Homo sapiens: one gene and its partner. The protein of the gene in region 1 interacts with the protein of each later gene in a biochemical or structural test. Each region holds a gene or a part of one and is shown on either strand. Other genes may lie near its edges.

Evidence for each region.
Region 2: the proteins of RXRA (region 1) and TAF1B form a complex in vitro, tested with the Homo sapiens proteins (one study listed by BioGRID).

What each region holds. Positions count from the first base shown.
Region 1 is NC_000009.12:134,434,455-134,437,769, reverse strand, and holds part of RXRA (retinoic acid receptor RXR-alpha), read right to left. Parts: intron 1,304-3,315; coding exon 1,156-1,303; 3' UTR 1-1,155. UniProt on the Homo sapiens protein: Receptor for retinoic acid that acts as a transcription factor.
Region 2 is NC_000002.12:9,912,974-9,916,473, forward strand, and holds part of TAF1B (TATA box-binding protein-associated factor RNA polymerase I subunit B), read left to right. Parts: intron 1-185; coding exon 186-276; intron 277-3,500. UniProt on the Homo sapiens protein: Component of RNA polymerase I core factor complex that acts as a GTF2B/TFIIB-like factor and plays a key role in multiple steps during transcription initiation such as pre-initiation complex (PIC) assembly and postpolymerase recruitment events in polymerase I (Pol I) transcription.

The DNA of each region.
Region 1 (3,315 bases):
GTCTTTTAGACACAACTGGCAGCCAGAGAGAAGGCCTGAGCAGGGGTCCCACCAATGCCCCGGCAGAGCCACTCCAGGCCGCGGAGCATCTGCCCCACCCACGAGGCTCCCAGTTCCTGAGCCCCTCTCTCTCCAGGCCACCTGCCCCCTCTGAGGGAAACCAACAGGCCACCCTCCTCCCCTCCCATCCCCGCGGGCCTCACAGATGGCTGCAGGTCCGCAGAGCCCTGTGCCTCCAGCAAGGCCAGTGAGGTGGTGATGCCCCACCCTGCCCGAGCCAGGGCCAGCCCTGCAGGAAACAAGGACAAGCCTCAGCCCACCCCGCAGAGCAAGGAGAAGACTCAGGCTGGGGAGGGGCCGGGGCACTCTGGTCTGAACGGGGAGTCGGGAGTCTGAAACCAGAACACCAAGGCAGAGAGAAAACAGGGGGGTGAGTGACCCGCCCCTGCAGCCTGGAGGTGGCCCCGAAACCTTGCACAGAGGGCAGCTCATGTTCTCATTGGCTCGAGGGCAAAACTGTGAGTTATCTTTGGAAAAAGGGGCTACCTTCCCCCTCACTCAGAGCACAGGGCAGCTTGCTTGCCCCACGAGTCCCCTCTCATCCCCGAGGCGGCTGAGGTCTTTGCTGATGACACACCAGCTTGCGCCCCCAGCTGTCCCCTCCTGATTAGGGGGAAGCTGTCACGGGCTGGCTGGGCACCAGTATTCAGAGCAGATGAAGATGTCACTCCAGACAGGAGGGCCACACAGGAATTCTGAAAACCAGCATCGATAAACAGCAACGGAAACAAAAGCCCCGTTCCCAACTCCTGCAGCTCCAGGGCTGGGGCCCGAAGACCCTGTAGTCGCCCAAGCCCCGTGGGGTGTGGCAGGGTGTCCTGAGAGCCCGGTGGGGAGGCGCCTGGCTGGGCTCACGCTAGTTCTTGCCACGAAGGCTGCTGCCTCAGGAAAGCCACTGCCCTGGGCCACAGACAAGTAGTAACAGAAATAAGGAGGGTGACAACACATCTCTTAGGCAGAGCAGTGACAGGCTGTGCCCCAAAGTCCAAACAGGCCAGGCAGAGAAGGGCAGGGACAGGGCTCAGGCTGAGAAGAACAGCTGGCGTCCAGGCAGGGTGGCCAGAACGGGTGGGCACAAAGGATGGGCCCGCAGGCCTAAGTCATTTGGTGCGGCGCCTCCAGCATCTCCATAAGGAAGGTGTCAATGGGTGTGTCCCCGATGAGCTTGAAGAAGAAGAGATGTTCCAGGCATTTGAGCCCGATGGAGCGCAGAGCCGGCAGGCGGAGCAAGAGCTTAGCGAACCTGCAGGGAACAGGTCTGGTGAGGGCCGGGCAAGGGGCATGGGCAGTTCTGCCCTGGCACTGGAGGCCTCCCTGGGGATGGGGCTGTGTCTGATACCCCAACCCCTCTGAGGCTGGTCTGTAGCCCTGAATCTGCCTATGCCAAGCCTCCAGAAGGAAGGAGGGGAGGCTAGAAGGAAACAGAGGCAGTGGCAACCCAGAGCCAGGACAGAGTGAAGGGAGATCCCTGGGTCTGAGGACGGAGATGAAGGGCCAGGGGCCAGACAGCAGCTGGCTAGGGCAGACTGAATAGCTCTTTGTGAAGAAGTTAAAAATTGCAGGCAGTTGGGCATGATGGCTCACACTTGTAATCTCAGCACTTTGAGAGGCCGAGGTGGGAGGATGGCTTGAGGCCAGGAGTTCGAGACCAGCCTGGGCAACGCAGTGAGACCCTGTCTCTACAAAAGAAAAAGAGAAAAACAGTAGCAAGGCGTGGTGGTGCATGCCTGCAGGGAGGACCGCTTGAGCCCAGGAGGTTGAGGCTGCAATGAGCTACGATCGCAGCACTGCACTCCAGCCTGGGCGACACAGCCAGACTGTCTCTCAAAAAATGAAAAACTGTGGGCCATGACAGCCGGGAGCGGGTGTGAGTATCAGTAATGCATCTGGCTGCAGCAGCCATCACAGCAAGAGACTGCGGGGCTTGTAAGGGAAAGGGCTGCTGAGCACACTGGTGAGTCGCAGGGAACAGGCCCGGCACATGGTGGGCAACCAAGAAGTCAAAGAGCATCAGGCGGGGGAGGGGGAGTCAGGCTGCACCCCCACTGCAGGTGGAGCCAGGCCTGACTTGGGAGCTGTGTAACGGTGCAAGACCCTTTCCATAAAGCATCAGCACCCCATGAGTGCCTCCCACGGCACCTTGTGCAGGGCTGTGGGCCCCAGACCAGGGCCACCCCTTCCTCAGAAATAGCTCTGCTGGCATTGGGCACAGCATGGTCAGAGAAGGCTGGCCGGGGAGGGAGGGAGCACGGGTTGGTCCTCAGGGCCTGGCCCATCCCTGGGGAGTTTCCTGGGGCAGGGACCAGTGGGGGGGCGGGAGGGAGGGGGGAAGTCTGGGGCTCTGGGAAGAGGGATAGCAGGGCCAGGCATGAGGGCAGCAGCTGCCGCTGAGGACAGGGTGCTATGGGGACGGAACCAGGTGTCCCTTCCGGCTGGCCGTGTCTGCCCAGGGCCCCTGTGCACGGCCTGAGTCTCTCCACACGGCCCCTCCAGGGGCTGCAGGACCTCATTAATTATTAACGAAGTCTTTCTTTCAGGGAAAAGCTCTGTGGTTGGCTGCCTCACAGGCCTTGTTTTAAAGGCAAAAACAGCGCAGAGGCTGGAGTTGGGCCAGAGAACAAGCTGTTTTCTGCTGAGCTGGCGAGATGGGCCAGGGCAGAAAGCCAGGAAAAACAAGCTGCCTGCCACCCCCTCCTGTCCTCGTCCTCCGGGAAGTTTCACTTTAAACCAAGCCAGATGAGGGCTGGGCAGGCAGCGGGGACACGGTTAACTGTGTATGTGCTGGTGGCGGGAAGGCCTGGGTGTCCTATGAGGTCTGCTGGGCCCCACCTCCCCCGACCCCCTCCCCGCCCCACAGTCTGAGGATCAAGAGGCCAGGAGATGCCCCTTTAGAGAGAAGAGGCAGAATCTGGAGCGCTGACTTTGAATCCCAGGCAGGGATCCACAAACGTTTCTCTTCCTGGACACCTACTGTGCACCCAGCACTGTGGACTCAGAAATGAGGGAGCCCCAGCCCTTCCAGGGCCCACAGCCGGGCAGGGGGGAAACATGAGCGCTACGCTCAGGCCGTGACCGCCTATTCCGTACACACTTGTAGAGAGTGTTTAGTATGTGTGGGCATCTGGCCATCCATTCTACACATGCTTGTGAAGTACCTACTATGTGCTGGTGTCGCCTGGCCTCTGGTGGTTCTGCTTGGTAGGGGAGCGCAGTGGGGGGTGAAGCACAGCCTTCATCTATCTACTGAACAAAGAG
Region 2 (3,500 bases), on another chromosome or scaffold:
AAGAGTGAGGAGTGAGTTTTTATACTTTACTGCATTCAGTTCTGTTGTCTCTCTAATGTCTACATCTTGATCACACACTCACACCAACTGCCCAGTGCAGTCAATTAATGAAAACTCAGATGAACAATGTATATTATTATAGTGTGGTTTATTTGGTTAATAATCTTGGATTTTATTTCTTTCAGATAAGCCATGGTTTGATTTCAGAAAGTGGTACCAAATTATGAAGAAAGCTTTTGATGAGAAAAAACAAAAATGGGAAGAAGCAAGGGCCAAGTATGTTCTCCTTCCTGGTTTAGATGCACCTGCCTTACTTCTGTGTCTGTTACTTTACATTTGAAAGCTGAAGCTTCATCAGTATACACTTATCTACATTGTGACTTTTTTTTCTGGAAATATTAGCCCTACACTCTAATTAACTTTTCTCTTTTTTACATTACTATTAATCAAAGTTTAGATTTGATGTGGATTTCACCAGTGTTTTTATTAATGTCCTCTTTCTGTTCCATGATCCAATGCAGGATACCACAGTATACTTTTTATAATTTAACTTTTTATAATTTGCATGAGACTTGCCTATATTTCTAATACTCCTCCCTCTTCCCCTTTCTCAAATTTAGTCATTTCTCATCTATGCTTCCCAATATTAAAAAGATTACAAATGTTACCTTGCAACATATGTAATTGGAATGTTCCCCCAAAATAAAGATCCCTGTGAAAATTAAAACAAAGGAAAGCAGATAGCAAGTCCATTTGATTCAGCCAGTGTCACTGCCTTTCTTTGAACTGTCATTCTGATGTGGGCTCATTGTGGTAGGGTAGAAGAGAGCATAAGCAGCGCTAGGTTTGAATCCTGTCTGCATTACAAGCTAGCTGTGTGCCCATGGGCCAGTTACTTAACCTTTTGCTGAGTCTGAGTCTCTTTGAGGCTTTGAAGAAAAAGGTAACATCTCTGTATTTAATGTAAATTTACAGTAATACTAATTCGACTCAGTAATTTTATATCCTTTGAGAAAAATCAAGGTTCCCCATATTAGTTGAAATGAGAATTTGTTCAGCTCCTATTTCTTCATCAGTAAAATAGACATAATAATGCCCACTTATATACTGTAATTAAGACCCAATTTTCCAGTATGAGAGTAGAACTAGATTATTTTTCCTCTAAATTTCAGAGGGCTTTTAAATAGAAAAACAGACTCTTGGGGTAGAAAAGGCACTGTGGAGATGATCCTTTCCATAGCAGGGAAGTGTGACAGGTTCCCTCTCAGTAGGCAGGATTGATGCACAATGAAGAAGAGGGGTGGAGGTGAATTTATCCCAACAGCCCATGGATTCCCAGGAAACCAGGCTCCCTGCCTCCTCATCAGAGAAGGAGTGACTCTTCAGTCAGTGGCTCTCAGTGGGCACAAGAATAGCAGCAGGAACAAGATTTTGTTATGTGTCTTAGGTCATTTTGGAGAATCAGCCTTCCTTTCTGTGGTGCTAGCTGGGGTTAGTCCTGACGGATCCTAAGGACTGGGTGCCTAGGGGCCATTCCTCCCTGGGGTCTCAGTGGTGACAGGGCTTTCCTTACCCCAAGCCAGACACCAACCTACACTTTAAACATAGCTCTTGGAGGCCCAGTTCATTATTGCAGTGTTATGTCAGTTGCACATTTAAGACTTACCGGCTTTTAGCTACTTTAGGGAATAATTTATTGGCCAAAGAAAGTAAGTCTGGTTATAAAATGGCACTTTCCAGGGAGGTACCGGGCCCCAAGGTGGAGGCTGTCGAGGGGACCCGTTTCCAAGGTCCTTCTTCCTAGAGTATGTGCTGAGGGCTGACACACACGTGCAGTGTGAGTCACTGCTGAGTAATATGCGAAGCACTACCAACTGCTGCTCAGGCCCAGAGCTCAGTGCGTGGTGGCCACCTGTCGGTTTCACCCTTCCCCACCCCCATGTTGACATACATGTCTAATTTTTCTCTTTGTTTCTCTGAATATTATCATCCATGTTGTCAGATGAAAATTATTAAAACATTTTCTATATCTGAGCATGGGTTCCTATGCATGAGATTATGAAAAACACTAATAAACAATAGTTGAAAACCTAAAACAGCGTAAGAGGCTACTTTGATGACTTCTAGCTGTTATAGAAGATGTTGAGAAGAACATGGAGAAAAATTAAGCCTGTGCAGAAAATCTCTATGCCCTAATTGGTGTATAGTGATATCTCATTATGGTTTTAATTTGAGTTCACTGCTAATTTTTGCCTTCCCTTTTGGGTTAGGCAGAAATTTCTTAGATGTGACACCAAAAGCATGATCTATAAAAGAAAAAAAATTGGTAAATTGGACTTCATCAGAAGTAAGAACCTCTGCTCCACAAAAGAACTTAAACGAATAAGAAGCTACAGACGAGGAGAAATTAAATGCAAATCACATATCCGTTTAAAGATTTGTATCTAGAGTATATAAAGAATTTTTAGGCAATAAGAAAAAAACTCCATTTTTTTAAATGGGCAAAATATTTGAAAAGACGTTTTACCAAAGATGATATCAAGATGGCATGTGAAAAGATGTTTAACATCATTAATAGGGAAATGCAAATTAAAACGACAATGACATATCATTATATACCAATTAGAATGGTTCAAAACAAAACAAAAACAAAAACTGATCATTCCCAGTGTGGGAATTCAAAATGGTACCGCTATTTTGAAAAGTTGTCAGTTTCTCAAAGTTAAACATACATTTATTATGTTATCCAGTGTTTTTCACTCCTAGATATTTACCCTAATGAAATGAAAACAAGCTCACACAAAAATCTGCATAGGAATGTTTCTAATGGTTTCATTCATAATTGCCAAAAACTGGCAACAAACCACATGTTCTTCAACTGGTGACTAGCTAAACTGTTGTATCCGTACAGTGGAATACCATTTAGCAGTACAGACTTCTTATGCATCCAGCAATATGAGTGAATCTTAAATGCATTATGCTATGTGAAAGACTCAAAAGGTTACTTATGCTATGATTCCATTTATATGACATTCTGGAAAAGGCTAAACTATGGGGACAGAAAAACAGACCAGTAGTTGCCTGAGATCAAGGGTTGACTGTCAAGGGATGTGGGAGATATTTTGGAGTGATGGAACTGTTCTACGTAGTAATTGTGGTGAGTACACACATGCAACTGTATGTGTTTGTCAGTGCTAGCAGAACTACACTGAAAAGAGTAAATTTTACTGAATGTAAATTATACCTTAATTTTTAAAAATGAGGAAACATATGCAGACAGACAAGAGAGAAATATATAGATAACATGTAACTGGAAAACATGGTTTGTGATGTGTCTCCTTTTGTAGTTTTATGTAATGAGAAAAGGCAGGCAAGGTAAAGTCAATTTTGGAAGAAGCTTTCATTTCAGGTATCTGAACACTTAAGAGTATTTTTATTTTAGATCACCTTTCCCATTCTTGGGGCATATCACCCCAAGGGCATCATAATGCTTTCTTGAT